Linked DNA regions of Homo sapiens. The protein of the gene in region 2 interacts with the protein of the main gene of each other region in a pairwise test. Each region holds a gene or a part of one and is shown on either strand. Other genes may lie near its edges.

What was found. The genes of interacting proteins can lie anywhere in the genome.
Region 1: the proteins of CDK3 (region 2) and CCNI interact in binary tests that used the Homo sapiens proteins (3 or more experiments, as listed by UniProt).

Annotation. Positions count from the first base shown.
Region 1 is NC_000004.12:77,072,937-77,080,871, forward strand, and holds the start of CCNI (cyclin-I), read right to left. Parts: upstream 3,054-7,935; 5' UTR 2,608-3,053; coding exon of another isoform or gene 2,536-2,607; intron 1,975-2,535; exon of another isoform or gene 1,854-1,974; intron 1-1,853.
Region 2 is NC_000017.11:75,996,489-76,004,200, reverse strand, and holds the start of CDK3 (cyclin-dependent kinase 3), read right to left. Parts: upstream 3,347-7,712; 5' UTR 3,234-3,346; exon of another isoform or gene 2,790-3,233; 5' UTR 2,776-2,789; coding exon 2,660-2,775; intron 2,328-2,659; coding exon 2,250-2,327; intron 2,180-2,249; coding exon 2,059-2,179; intron 1,954-2,058; coding exon 1,783-1,953; intron 1,691-1,782; coding exon 1,589-1,690; intron 1,007-1,588; coding exon 803-1,006; intron 1-802. Other genes in the region: CST complex subunit TEN1, read right to left, coding at 3,939-4,060. UniProt on the Homo sapiens protein: Serine/threonine-protein kinase that plays a critical role in the control of the eukaryotic cell cycle; involved in G0-G1 and G1-S cell cycle transitions. Interacts with CCNC/cyclin-C during interphase. Phosphorylates histone H1, ATF1, RB1 and CABLES1.

The sequences.
Region 1 (7,935 bases), on a different chromosome or scaffold from region 2:
CAGAAAGCATGGGCTTGGCTTTTCTTTTACTGACAGTGCACAAGCCTATTTTCTACGGGTAAAGCACATTTTGAGTTGAATTAATAAATTCCGCTAAGAAAATGCAAACATTTAAAATACAATTTTAGTTTTAACAGAACTATATAGTTATGTTTTGTTACTGTATGCCTATTGTTGGTTACATCCAACTTTGCATGCTTTTTTAGAAAAGCAAGAAATAACAAAAGACTATTTTAGTTGGCATATTCCACACACATCAAACTTTATGCCAGTTTCACATTTCTCCTCCCATCCTCTCAATTGCTGCCGCTTCTCCTTTCTCCACGGTTATCAAATAGCTTAATGTCTGAGGTAATAGTTTATAAAAGGCTTACTGTACAGCATAACTATTACAGATATACATACAGGGCCCCCTGCTCCTCTGAGGAAAAGTGCTGCACAGTGCTGGGTATACAATATAAACAACTTCACTAATATGTATTATTGTATTTGCTATCATCATCACACCAATTCCATTAATAATCCTGTACTAGTGCTGACTTCTGAATCTTAGTTCCTCTTCTGAAAGGAGGGATTAACGTGGCCATACAAGAAACTGAAGTTCTACTATTCCCTCCTTGACTTTATGCACTAGAAACAATGAATTAAAGGTATTTGCAATTCCAAGTGTATGCTCTTTCCCAATCTCCCTGGCTGTACAAGCACTGCTGTTTCAACTTGAAATGTCCTCTAGCTCATACTTCCCTTCCTAAAGTAGCCATCAGTCTGTAAGACTCTCTGGATTTGTGCAGTTGTGCCCTGCCTTCCAACATCTGTACTTGGACATAATTCTACCTTTACATTTAGTTGCTTTGAGACTATTGGTAAACTTGCCTTTCCTAATAATGAATTCTTTGATGTTAATCTCCAGAGTTGAGCATATGCCTAATAGCTTCACTTGTAAACAGCTTAACAAGTAAAAGCACTGAGTGCTTACTATTTGACTACCTATTGTTCAAAGCGCTATGCCATATTAACTCATGTAATGTTCCCACAATTTGATGAAACTGTGGAAAGCCCTTTTTTTCTAGTTTTTTATTTTTCTTACTACACCCCCATTTCAGCCATAAAGCCCATTTTAAAGACGAAGAAACATACATAGGAAGATGAATATTCATTTTTAATGTATTACACAATCAAAACAAAACACGGACACACTCAGCTTCCAATCTTGACCAACACACATGCTAAGCTCCATTCTAACCTACTAGGATGTCACATTACCACATAAACTACCTGTAACTGCAGATCATTTTTACTGAACTTCCCTAACACATGCTGACTGTATTAGTCTGCCCTTCATCGGTATCAAGAAATTTCTAGTAGAGGGGCTCAGAATCTCTCGGAGATTCTCTGGTCCCAGATTAGCCAATCTACATCTATTCCGTCCATTATTTCTTAATCTATTTGTCCAATCCTTTCTATTTCATCTGCCACAAATGACCTGGAAAAGCTAGCAGCAGATAACACTGCTATTTCAACAAACTCATTTTCAGGACAGAGACCACACAGCGTAGAATCAGACTTAATTCTGGCTACTGGGTTTTAGCCGCGTTACCTAAGGAGAAAGTTAATCTTGTGGAGTCTCAGTTTTCCTCATCTGTAAAATGAGGCTCCTACTACCAGCCTTGGGGGGATTAAGTGAATTGCAAGCCACTTAGGAGAATGCCTGGCAGATAATAAGCCTCATCAAATGTTGTTATTTAACGTCATTACTGTAATGCTCTGCTGCTCTAAGTCGAGTGGCTCCCCACTGACAGAATAAAACATAAACATTTTAGTTCAAACCCCTTCAGAGTCTGAATCCATCCTACCTCCCGAAACACCTTCCACTGTTTTGATACCCAATTGTCAACTTCTGCCAAAAGGATCTGTAACGGAGCCCCCTAGCTCCAGCGGAGGCTCCTCTGTCCTCCTTTCAAATTCCAGTTATTTAATCTAGCCTTTAGAGCACAACTCAAATCTCACCTCCCCCGGATTCCCCCCACCCACCCGCCCCAAGCCCTGGGTAACGTTGCCCTCCCCCGAATTTCACAGCACCGGAGGTTCACCCCATTCATTTGGCATTCAGTCTGCCGTGCAAAGTTAGTAATCCTCCTGGTGTCCCCGGAGAATCGTTCAACCTGAGGGTGGGGGTGTGTCCCCTTCTTTGTGTATTAACACGGGCTCGTAGAGCCTCCAACACGCACTATAGAGTAGCTAATTTGCCGCTGCCACAAAAAAAAGTTACTCGCTGACAGAAAAACTGGCCCGAAAAGGAACACAGTAGTGCCGTTTTCAAGTGGGCAGGTGACGGGTCTGTCTGGGCCGGAGAGGACGAAGAGGGCGGCCCCGAGGTTCCCCGGGCTGGGGGATGCGGGAGGGTGGGTCTCCGGCGAGCAGCGCGCGGCCAAGGGCGCTGCCACGGGGGCGGCGCGGGGGGAGCAGCGGGGCCCCAGCGCGTCGACGCCGGCCGCGGAGACGCGTCGAGCCCCCGCCCCCGCCCCCGCCCCTCACCTTCTCCTCCTCTTCCTCCTCCTCCTCCTCCCCGGCAGAGCTGTAGGCCTCACAGTGGTGACGCGGGGTCATCCGGGGGCCCGTTACCACCTCATTCTCATAGGCGCGCGGAGGCGGTGCGCGCGGGACGACTCGGCCAACTGAGGAGGGAGAAAGGGGAAGCGGATCGGGGGGCGCGGGCGCGGGCGCTGGCGCTCGAGCGGGACGCACGGCTGCGGCCGCTGGGTCGGTCAGCGAATTAGTTCCATGATGACCCCCGGCCTGAGGCCGCCGCCGCTCGAGCCCGGGTTGGGAGGGGGCTCCCTCTCGCCATAGGGCGGCGGGGGCCGGGGAGAGGCGGGGGGTGAGACCGGCTCTGCCCCTGCCCGGGGAAAGCGCCTCCGAGGGGAAATGGTGAAAGGGGGGGAGGGGAGAAAAGAAAAGAAAAAAAAAAAAAGAAAGGGGAAAGGGGGGAAAAATAAGAAAAAGCGAGACAGAGGCGCTGCCGCGTCCGCTCGCGGGGAAGGCTGGGGAGGGAGGGGAAGAGAGGGGAAGGGAGGAAGAAGTGCCGGCTTCCTCGGCTCCGCCCTCGCGGACCGATTCCTAGACTCGCCCACTCCTTGTAAACTACGCGGACTTGGTCTTTCACCCTTCCTGTTCCTCCCCGCCGCCTTCCCGGTCCAACGAAAGTACAGAGAAGTGCGGCCGAAAGGAGACGGGCTGGGGAAGTCGTTGGCACTAGGATGGAAGGAGGGAGGACGTTTTCTCGTGGCTAAGAAAAGCCGAAGGTCCGTGGACTCATTTTCCTTGAAGGAGCGGAAGGGTTGCTTGCAGACCGCACGGTGACGTCAGCGTCTCTGGGCCCCCACTGAGGGGGCGTGCGGTGGCCGGAGAGTGCGCTGCGCATGCGCCTGGGGAAGAAAGAAGCGGCCGAGCGCTGCGCTTGGGGGAGGGGATTTCACGATCCGCTCCTGTGGTCCAGCTTTACAGCAGCTTGGTTTTATCTAGCCCTACTCGTCCCCAGGCTCTTAGAAGGATTCACTGGGAAGGGGCTACTGATCTCTTGGGTGGAGATCTTGCAGATTTGTTGACCTAGCAAAGTATTACGTGTTCTTACCGTTGACATGTAAATAGAATTGCGGTTTTTCTCACTGCCACATTGTGTGGGTGGAGGGAGATTCTAAAGGGTTTTAGGAATCGGAAAATTAGGGAGAATCAAATCATGGGTGCTTAAGGCCTCAGTGAAACACTGTAAATTATACTGCTGACGGCGAGGAACCTGCTTGGCAATGTGGCAAGGGGATTTTATCCACTCAACCAACACGTCTGAGTATTTCCGAATAGGTTTTATTACCAGGTGCTTAAAGAATGTGTGGTGACATAAATGGGTTTTATTTGGGGTTCTGTTAGTACAAACGGTAACTTTTTGCTATTTTGATTGTTTTAATTATTTAAAAATATGTAGTATTACAGAGTTTTGAAAGAGGAAGAGCTAGATCTCAACCATTTATAGAAGTCTCGTTTGTTTTTTCCATTTGTTTTTTATATAGTTATTTTAACTGTCAGTGAAAAAATATGTGTTGAGTTTATTTAGTGGCCAGACTCAGCAAACTGGAAGTAGCCAAGACAGACATAGCTCCTGCCTTCATGGAGTTTACAGTCCAAACAGAGGATAACCATTGAGCTAATTATCACTATGTAAAATTACCAAGTACATTTACTTGTTTACTTGTGCATGTATCCCCTCCCTAGAATATAAGGTCGCAGGCGGCAGGGATCTTGCATGTTTCACCCTCTATCCCTGTGTATAAAAGGCTCTCAATATTTGACCAAGTAAACAATTCTGGTATTAAAACCGTTAAGATGGAAAATCGCCGGCTGCTGTGGAAACGCTTGCCTTTCCGCCTGGTTTGGGATATCAGAGAAGGTTTTTCTGAAGAAGTGACATTTAAGATGAGACTTGAAACCACTGGGCAAAGAATGATACAAGCAGAGGAAGTTATGTGAAAAGGCTCCGAAGCTGAGACGTTCTAAAAATCTCTGAAAGCTAGTGTGGCTGGCCCTCAGACAACTGAGGCAGGATGTGGAAGCAGAGGACAGATGCCATAGAACAGAAGAAGGAATGGGAAGCCCTAGGAGGATTTCAAGTGGGTTGTATCCTTTTTTTTTCTTTTTTTCACTTCATGTAGCCTATTATTATATGGTCTTCATTCAAAAAAGCCACCATTTTTCTGCATGTTACTCTTGAGACTGTAGCATTTCTGCATAATACTATTGAGAGTGTAACATAATTCCATTGTTAGACCATGAAATTGCTTCTGATTTTCACTCCAATAAGAATAATGCAAATTCCACTCCTAAATATATACCCAAGAGAAAGGAAAATATTTGTCCATGCAAAAACTTTTTTACAAACGTTAGCATTATTCATAATAGCCAAAGATGAAACAACCTAAATGTTCATCAGCTGGCGCCTGTATAAATCAAATGTGATACATCTATGTACAATCAAATTTTTATTTTTAAGAGATGGGGTCTGGCTCCGTGGCGCAGATGGGGGTGCCATGAGACTTCCTATGTTGTCCAGGCTGGTCTCAAACTCCTGGCCTCTAGCAATTCTCCCTCCTTAGCCTGAAAGTGATGGGATTACAGGCATGAGCCGTCACACCGACCTATACAATGGAATCTTATTGGGCCATAAAAAGAAAATACTAATACATGCTATAACATGCATAACCTTTGAAAGCAGTATGCTAAATGAAAGAAGCCAGTCACAAAAGACCACATATTATATGATTCCACTTACGTGAATGTCCAGAATAGGCAAATATATAGAGACAGAAAGTAAGGAAGTGGTTGCTTAGGGCTAGGGGCAGGCATGGGATTAGGGGATGATAGTTAAATGATATGGGGGTTTCTTTCTTTTTTTCTTTTCTTTTTTTCTTTTTTTTTTTTTTGGAAACAGGGCCTTGCTCTGTCCCCCAGGCTGCAGGCTGGAGTGCAATGGTGTGAACATGACTCACTGTAGCCTTGACCTCCAGGATCAAGCAATCCTCCTGCCTCAGCCTCCTGTGTAGCTGGAACCACAGGCGCATGCCTCCATGCCCAACTGATTTTTTGAAGGTTTCTTTTTGAGGTGAGAAAAATGTTCTGAGATTGATTGTGTTGATGGTTGCGCAACTGTGAATATTTAGGTTGAGTATTATCCAAAATATTTGAGACCAGAAGTATTTTGAATTTTAAACTTTTTTTTCAGTTTTGGAAATGTTTGCATTAAATTATATACTTACTGGTTGAGCAACCTAGTCTGAAAATCCAAAATGAGCATTTCCTCTGAGTGTCATGTTGGCACTCAAAAAGCTTTGGATTTTGGAGCATTTCAGATTTTTGTATCAGGGATATGCAACCTGTACTAAAAACCATTGAATTGTACACTTTAAATGTATTACTTCTATGGTGTTTGAATTATAATAAAGCTGCTACCCAAAAAATGAAAAACAAAAATAATTCAATTAACATCTTCATAACCTCTTTGGGGCTATTCCTAGGTCCAACAATATTATGTTTTTATGGCTTTTACTGAATACCAGTTGCCAGTTGCAAGGCAGAAGATTAAACCAATTAAAATGTTACCAGGAGTCTTTAAGAGCTCCCATTTAATTATATACTTATCCTTATTAAAACTATCTTACTGCCTATGAGATTGCCAGTGACAATTTAATCTACTATAAATATAATTACAAGTAATTAATAGGTGGGTAAGTAACTAGTTGCAGTTGTCTGAACAAAAAGTATGGATATTTTCTTTCTTTTTTTTTTTTCCTTTGAGACAAGGTCTCACCCTGTCACCCAGGTTGCAGTGGTGCGATCTCAGCTCACTGCAGCCTCAACTTCCTAGGCTCAAGCGATCCTTCCACCTCAGACTTCTAACTAGCTGGGAATACAGGTGTGCACCACCATGCCCAGCTAACTTTTGTATTTTTTGTACAGACGGGGTTTTGTCATGTTGCCCAGGCTGATCTCGAATGCCAGAGCTCAAGCAATCCAGCTACGTCAGCCTCCCAAAGTGCTGGGATGACATGCATGAGCCACTGTGCACAGCCAATATGGACATTCTTGTTCTTCAGTATCCATTTGTAAGACCATACTTTAATTCACTTTTTTTTTTTTTTGAAACAGAGTCTCTCTCTTGTCACCCAGGCTGGAGTGCAATGGTGCAATCTCAGTTCACTGCAACCTCCATATCCCGGGTTTAAGCAATTCTTCTGCCTCAGCCTCCCGAGTAGCTGAGATTACAGGTGTGCCACCGTGCCTGGGTAATTTTTGTATTTTTAGTAGAGACAGTTTCACCATGTTGGCTAGGCTGGTCTCGAACTCCTAACCTCAGGTAGTCCACCTGCCTCGGCCTTCCAAAGTGCTGGGATTACAGGCTTGAGCCACTGCGCCAGGCCATATTTTTTTTAATAACTAATAATTGTTTTTACAATTAATTGTAGTTGTAAAAAATCGAAAGTTTATGAAATTCCCTGAGAAAATAAATAAGATATATAAAGAGAACATATTATCCGCGTATTGGTAAATAACTTCTATTTAGTAATTCTAAATAGTAAAGTTAGACTACCATTCTACACGGCATTTCTAGGTGTGGTAGTTCATGCCTGTAATTGCTTTGGGAGGCCAAGCTGGGAGGATCATTAAGCCCAGGAGTTTGCACCAGCCTGGGCAACACAGAAAGACCCTGTATCTGAAAAAAAAAGGAGAGAGAGAATAATAATAACTAACACATGTTGATCACTCACTATGTAGCAAACATTATACTAAGCATTTTTATTGCATTCTTTTGTGTTTATCCCCACAGCACTCCTCTATAGTAGGTATTTTTGTTGTTCCTATTTTACAAAAGATAAAGAGGTAAAGTAAATCCCAATATTCATCACATAGCTTAGAGGGGCACAGCCAGGATTCAAACCCAGGTTGACTATCTCCAAAGCATGGTATGTTTTTAATCACTACTCTTTACTGCCTCTCCCTTAGAAGTTTCTGGCTTGCAGTAAATTTTAGGACAAAAATAGTCACCTTGTGGTGATTTTTGGCTTGTGTTTAATCTTAAATATTTTTAAAAATCTAATATGCAGTTATTTGTGTGTCTAAAGAGTAGATTTTTACTGGAAAAGGATTTCAGACTTGTTTTATTTCATGACTAGAATATTAAATCTTGAAATTAAACTATACCTTGCTTCAAATCAAAGAGGAGCAGCATAAGGAAGCACATGAGAAACAGCTATCAGAATAAAGACAGTGAGCGGGTGTGATGCCTCATGCCTGTAAGCCCAGCACTTTGGGAGGCTGAGGTGAGTGGATCACTTGAGGCCAGAAGTTTGAGACCAGCCTGGCCAACATGGCGAAACCCCATCTCTACTA
Region 2 (7,712 bases):
CTTCCTGGGCAGTCCGGCCTGGGTCAGCTCAAGACACCAACAGGAGGGGTGAGTGAGAACTGTGGCATGGGCCCAGGCAGTAGGGAACAGCCTGTTCTGAAGACTGACCACTGTAGGAGTCACAGGGGAACAGCCAGGCAGTAGAACGAGAGGCCCCAGCCGGGCACAGTGGCTCATGCCTGTAATCCCAGCACTTTGGGAAGCCGAGGTGGGCAGATCACCTGAGGAGTTCAAGACCAGTCTGGCCAACATGGTGAAACCCTGTCTCTACTAAAAAAAAAAATACAAAAATTAGCTGGGCGTGGTGGCAGGCACCTGTAGTCCCAGCTACTCGGGAGGCTGAGGCAGGAGAATGACTTGAACCCAGGAGGCAGAAGTTGCAGTGAGCTGAGATCACGCCATTGCACTCCAGCCCGGGCAACAAGAGCAAAACTCCATCTCAAAAAAAAGAAAAGAAAAGAAGGTATGGCCCCAGCCTGGGGAGGCATACAGCTTAGATGGAGCAGTAATGTCCACAAAGTAGAATAACCAAACACACAAGACAACTAGGGAAAAAGGGCGTGTAGCACAGCATAAAGACAGAGCTAACTCAATGAGCGCCACTTTCACAGGGAAGATAAATACTGCACTTATCCTGGGGGAGGCTTCCGGGTTGAACAATCAGTATACCCAAGCCAGTTGTGTACAAAGGTCAGGAAAGAGACCCTGGCCTTGGACTCAGAAAGTGCCAGGGTTATGTAAGAGGCTGGCTGATGAGGGGAAACTGTAGTCGGAGCAGCAGCTGGAGCCCACATGCACCTACCATGAGCAGGTCCCTGCCCTCTGGCTCCAGATTGGGCACAATCTCTTCCAGTCCCTTCCTGGTCCACTTAGGGAAGCTGCCCTTATAGTCAGGCAGCTGGGTGACCCCGGGCCATGTGTCTTCGCTGGGTGTCCCCAGCATACGAAAGATACGAAAGAGCTGGTCAATCTCAGAGTCACCAGGAAACAGGGCTTTTCGAGTCACCTGAAATGGGGAAGAAGAGAAGGTGTGGGGTCCGCCACTTTGTTATACAGAATCCAATACCAGATAAGTGGCCAGACCCAGGGAGAGGCCTGTCAAGATATCTTTTCCATGACTGTGCAAAGAATTCTGGCCTCTTTTGGAATAAAGCTACCTTCCTCAGTCCTTTAGCCAGTACCAAACACCTTTTTTTAAAAAATAGAGACGGAGTCTTGCTCTGTCACCCAGGCTAGAGTGCAGTCGTGCGATCACAGCTCACTGCAGCCTCAACCACAGGCTCAAGCAATCCTCCTGCCTCAACCTCCCAAGTAGCTGGGACTACAAGCATGCACCACCACACCCAGCTAATTTTTGTAGTTTTTTAAGAGCTGGGGATTTGTTACGTTGCCCAGGCTGGTCTCAAACTCCTGGGCTCAAGCCATCCTCCCATCTCAGCCTCCCAAAGTGCTGGGATTACGGGCGTGAGCCATGTCCAGCCCCAAACACTCTTTAATCCGCCTCGAATGGGAGCATCAGTGGACCCCACCCAACCCCAGTAGGACCCTGCCTGTGGCACCCTGTGGCCATGTGTGCCCCTCTCTCTACCATCTCTGCAAAGATGCAACCAATGCTCCAGATATCCACAGCTGTGGTATAGAACTTGCTGCCCAAGAGAATCTCGGGGGCGCGATACCACAGTGTCACCACCTGCAGGGCAAAGAAACAGTATCACTCAGGGTGGCTGAGTGCATGGGTGACACTCCTCCTGCTGCCCCTCTCTCCTCTTTGTCTCACAATACCTCATGGGTGTAGGTGCGCAGGGGCACCCCGAAGGCGCGAGCCAGGCCGAAGTCAGCCAGCTTGATGGCACCCAACTCATTGATGAGCAGGTTCTGGGGCTTCAGGTCTCGGTGGATGACCCGATGTGAGTGGCAGAAACTCACCCCCTGCAGCAGCTGGAAGAGGTAGCTCTGGAGAAACGAGCGCGAGGTGCAGCCAGCTGAGCGGAGGTGCTGCGTGGACAGGGATGGCAGGGATGGGGTGTCACCTCTCCTTCCCTGCCCTTCCTTCCCTACCTTGATGAGGTGCAGGGGGAGCTCTGAGCCTGGGGTGGAGTCCATGTACTTCTTCAGGTCCTGGCTGAGGAACTCAAACACCAGATAGAGCTTCCTCTCGTTGTGCACCACGTCCAGCAGTCTGACAGGGAGATGGCAGTCAGGATGCTACCTTCGCCATCCCAGCTTCCCCACCTCAATCCCCAACTCACCGGACGATGTTGGGGTGCTTCAGTTCCTTGAGCAGCGAGATCTCCCTGATGGCAGTGCTTGGGACCCCCTCCATCTCCCTGCAAGAAACAAGGGCACAGCCGTGGGCAGAGACTTGGGCCAAGAAGGGCACTTCCAGCCAGGGGGATCGGCTTCTCCTTAACCCCACAGAATGACCAGGGCCCCGGCAATGGAGACCTGTGCTCCTTGGCACGTCATCCACCAAACTCCACAGTCAGGGCCCCGGCAAAGGCTGGTCAGAAGGCAGTGAACTGGGGAGAGGACAGGTAAGGGCTGCTGGGCAGCACCCAGAGGAGTTAAACGTGGACTCCAGGAAAGAGGGAACGGATCAGGGAGCGCCCAGGTTGTGATGGCCCAGGGTGGGTAACTCAGGGGCCGTCCCAGCACTCACAAATCCAGTCTGATCTTCTTCAGGGCCACCAGCTGCCCTGTCTCCCTGTTCTTGGCCTTGTACACCACCCCATAGGTGCCCTCTCCGATCTTCTCTACCTTCTGGAACATATCCATGGCCACAGAGCTGCCTGGGAAACAGAAGGCACCGGGCAATTTGCACCCCACGCCCAGCGCTCCCGTTGCTCCTCCAGCTTCCATGTGGCGCCCTGCCCAGCCCAGCCCAGCCCAGACTGCCCAGCTCCCAAGGCCCACGGCCTAGCCACCCCAACCCCAGCTCATCCTGCCTGGGAACCTGGCTGGGGGTCGGAAACCGCCCCTCACCCAGCCCAGCCCGGACCCCAAGGGGGTCAGGGGGCCCCCTTCACCCAGCCCAGTTCAGCCAGGACCCCCAGGCTTCTCGCCCATGCCCGGCCTCGGAGGGCAGGGCCCACACTCTCCCACCCAGCCCCCTGCCCATCCCAGCCAGAACCCCCAGGAAGTCAGAGACCACCCCTCGCCCAGCCCAGCCCAACATGGACCCCCAGGCCTCTCACTTGTGCCGGGCCTTAGAGGGCAAGACCACCCTTTCCCACCTGGGTCACTGCCCAGCCCAGCCAGTCCCAGGCTCTGGGTACACATGGCGGCCAGGAAGGGCTGCCCAGGGGCCAGGGCCACTGGGGGCAGAGGTCAGGGGTCAGGAGGGTCTTAAAGCCACAGTCCTGTCTTAGGCTGCACGGTCAGGGCCCAGGGCCTCAGCCCGGCCCGTGTGACGACGCTCAGCCTCCTCTGAAGGCAGAGCCTGGCCAGGGGCAGACCCCTGCATCCTGGGCCCCCCACCCCAGCCCCTGGGCCCCTGGTGCCCTACCCTGAGGCCCCAGGCCCAGAATTCACCAGAAGCCCTGAGAGGCTGCAGCCCACAGCCTGGGTTGCAGCTCCCCCTCCTGGCCCCCGCCGGCGCTGCACCACGAGCACACTTCAAGAGCACGCCCCCTGGGCCTTTATTCACCAGGACCTTCTGGAACCCTCCATGGCCCCACACCAAGCACGGCCCCGGCGCCCAAGCTCGGCCACCTGCAGTCTCCTGGGGTGGGGCTGTCGGATTTATGGCATGCTTTCTGGGTTCTCATTGCTGAGCCAATCCCAAAGTAGGGGAAGGGGCTGGATTCATCACCCGCCCCTCGGCTTTCGAGCTCCAGACAAGGCCGTCGCTGGGGAGGCGTCTGTGCTCTCCCGGGCTCCTGCAGCTCCAGAGGGTTCGGGCTCTGAAGCAGGTGAGGGTGTTGCTAGGCTGCTGTTTCCTACTGGCTGCCGCCCCGCTCCTGCTTGTACAGTCTCTGCTCCCGGATGGCTTGTTCCAACAAGGGCAGGTTCATCCCCTCCACACAGGTCAGCACGCGCGCCTTCACCACGGAGCCTCTGTCTGCAAGACAAACACCAGGGCACGAACGGCGACTGAGCGGCGTGTCAACAACGTCCTCCAAGGTGCATTCCAGCTGTTCCCTCCACAGCTCAGTCCTGGGTTTTGGCAGCAAGTGATGTGGACAATAACAGCATATGGGGCAAAGGCAACTGAGTATTTGGGCCTAGAACCGTGGGCCTGTCATGCACAGTCGGCCCGTGTCTGGAACTTAGCAGGTGGTCAGAAAACCCCTCTGGACTGAGGGAAAGGCCCCCTTGGCACCTTGGGACACAATGTCATCAGGAACCGGGGAAAAGAGACACCCATATTTTAAAAATCCAAGAGACTGAGCTCCCGGTAAGTTTGGCTTTATAGGAGCAGGTCATCCCACCCTGGACGAGGGGGGCTTCTAGCAGATGCGGTGGTGACCTGATACATAATGGAAAGGTTTGCCACTATTCAGGTGGCACCAAACAGGAAAGACATCTCCGAGAGACTTTTTAAAAATTTTCTTTCTTTTGACAGGTGAACTGGCTCACACCTGTAATCTCAGCACTTTGGGAGGCCAAGGCATGTGGAACACTTGAGGTCAGGAGTTCAAGACCAGCCTGGCCAACATGATGAAACCCCATCTCTACTAAAAATACAAAAATTAGCCGCGTGTAGTGGTGCATGCCTGTAATCCCAGCTACTTGGAAGGCTGAGGCAGGAGAATTGCTTGAACCCAGGAGGTGGAGGTTGCAGTGAGCCAAGATCACGCCACTGCACTCCAGCCTGGGCAACAGAGCAAGACTCCACCTAAAAAAAAAAATTTTTTTTTTGAGACAGGGTGTTGCTCTGTCACTTGGGCTGGAATGCAGTGGCTCAATCATGGCTCAATGTAGCCTCCACCTCCCAGGCTCAGGTGATCATCTCAGCTTCCTGAGGAGCTGGGACTACAGGGACGCACCACCACACCCAGCTAATTTTTGTATTTCTTGTAGAGATGGGGTCTCGCCATGTTGCCCAGGCTGGTTTCAAACTCCTGGGGTCAAGTGATCTGCCCGCCTCGGCCTCCCAACATGCATGGATTATAGGCGTGAGCCACTGTGCATTGCTGACATTTTTTTTTTCTTTCTTTTTTCCCCAGTCATAGCTTGCAAGAGAAAAAAAAAAGTTAAAAAAATTTTTTGCACTCATGCTCTTTCTGCTCTCTGAGCACTTTAATAAATAGATTTCCGAGATGGGTGGATCACCTGAGGTCAGGAGTTCATGACCAGCTTGGCCAACACGGCAAAACCCCGTCTCTACTAAAAATACAAAAATTAGCCAGGTGTGGTAGCTGGCACCTGTAAACCCAGCTACTCGGGAGGCTGAGGCAGGAGAATCGCTTGAACCTGGGAGGCAGACGTTGCAGTGAGCCGAGATCAAGCCACTGCACTCCAGCCTGGGCAACAGAGTGAGACTCTGTCTCAAAATAAGTAAATAAATAGATTCAATGTTCTAGGCTATTACATTGTTTTCTTTTGACGCTGTTTGAGATAAAGGCTCTGCCTGCCCTTTCCTCTAGTCTAGGTCATTTATAGCACAGCCTGAGGGCAGAATTCAGGGTGTCATCCTGCCTAGCTGTCTATACAGGCTACCCTTAGGCAATGAACTCATTTGAAACATGAGGTTGCCTGTGTGTCTCAGCTTCTGTTAGCCCCAGTGCTGACACAGGTCAGAGAGGAATCGGGGCGTGGCGCGGTGGCTCCCAACACTGTAATCCCAACACTTTGGGAGGGCAAGACAAGCAGATCACTTGAGGCCAGGAGCTCAAGACCAGCCTGGCCAACAAGCGAAAACCCTGTCTCTACTAAAAATACAAAAGTTACCCAGGCCCGACTACTTGGGAGGCTGAGGCACGAGAATCACTTGAACCGGGGAGGTGGATGTCGCAGTGAGCCAAGATTGCGCCACTGCACTCCAGCCTGGGAAACAGAATGAGACTCTGTCTCAAAAAAAAAAAAAAAAGGAAAAAAAAAGGAAAAAGGCCAGGCGCAGTGGCTCACATCTGTAATCCCAGCACTCTGGGAGGCTGACGCAGGCGGATCACCTGAGGTCAGGAGCTGAAGACCAGCCTGGCCAACATGGTGAAACCCTGTCTCTACTAAAAAGACAAAAATTAGCTGGGTGTGGTGGCGGGCACCTGTAATCCCAGCTACTAGGGAGGCTGAGGCAGAATCGCTTGAACCCAGGAAGCAGAGGTTGCAGTAAGCAGAGATCGTGCCACTGCACTCCCAGCCTGGGTGACAGAGCGAGACTCCATCTCAGGAAAAAAAAAAAAAGATTAAGAACCTGGAGCAAAGAAGAAGGGCCTGGGTTATAAAAAGCAGTCAGAATGCAGTGGGGTGAGGCCTGGGAAGAGGAAGGGGTTATACGGAGCACAGATGTTCTTTTAGGAGGTTTGTCTGCAAAGGGAGGGAAGGTCATGGGCAGGTAGGTCAGACTCTAGTGTAGAAGATGACTTCTTGTCATTGAGACTATTATTTCCATATAGAGGAGGCTTGAACACCTTATATGTGGACAGGGAAGAACTGTGGTAACCCCTTAGGTAGGAGGGACCCCGCTTCCTCTTAGACTAGAGGAAGGAGCTAACGGTGGCCGTTTCAGTGTCTGATGGTCGGTGGCCGTTTCAGTGTCTGATGGTAGGAGGAAGAACGGCTGCCTGTGGCCTCGATTCTAGCTGGCTCATAAAGCAATAAGCCGGGAGGGACAGGGGAGGAGAGGAAGTGGGTTCTTGTGAGGCAGGGGAATTTCTGGACTAGCTGTGGTGGCGCCGGGGAGGGGGGTGTGGCCAGGACACAGGAAGGATTTCTAGGCAGAGCAGGGGAATGCCAGTGAGCCCCTGAAATCATTGAGCTCCAAATCCTTGGAGTTCTGTGATCTTTCTGCACTCAACAGTTGGCAGAACCAGGAGGGTGGAGGCTGGGGTCTTGGGGCAGGAGTGAAGCTGCCAGGAAAGTGGCTGAAATGGTAGTGAGGCCCAACGGGGAAGAGAGATGGGGGAGAAAGCCCGGGAGTCCTGAGTCCACAGGTCCTGATAGGGCAAGAGGGACGCAGCAGAAGTAGAAGGGAGAGTGGATGGCATGCAATTTCAGGAAAACAAGTCCAAGGTGCAGCAGCAGGCGTGGGAGGTGGAATTGGGGCAGAGGTGCACAGTGGTGGAACTGGTTGGCAGCAGGGAGACAGGGAGGGATGTGTGATGCTGACACACCCGAGGAGCCGGGGAAACTCCGGCCCTGCTCCAGACTCTGTGGGTGTGTGGTTTGGGGAGAAAGGTTTGGGCAAGTCCCAGAGCTGTAAGGATGCTCGAAGAGGGAGGTGCACAGGGGACACACAGGAAGGTTTCCCTCCCTCCCTTTCTCTTCTCTTTTCTCTTTCTTTTCTTTTCTTTCTTTTTCTTTCTTTCTCTCTCTCTTTTTTTTTTTTTTTTTGACAGGGTCTCACTCTGTCACCCAGGCTGCAGTACAGTGGTACAGTCTCAGCTCACTGCAATCTCTGCCTCCCTGGCTCAAGTGATCCTCCCACCTCAGCCTCCCCAGTAGCTGGGACTACAGGCATGTGTGCAACAACGCACCCTGCTAATTTTTGCATTTTTTGTAGAGACGGGGTTTCACCATGTTACCCAGGCTGGTTATTATTATTATTTTTT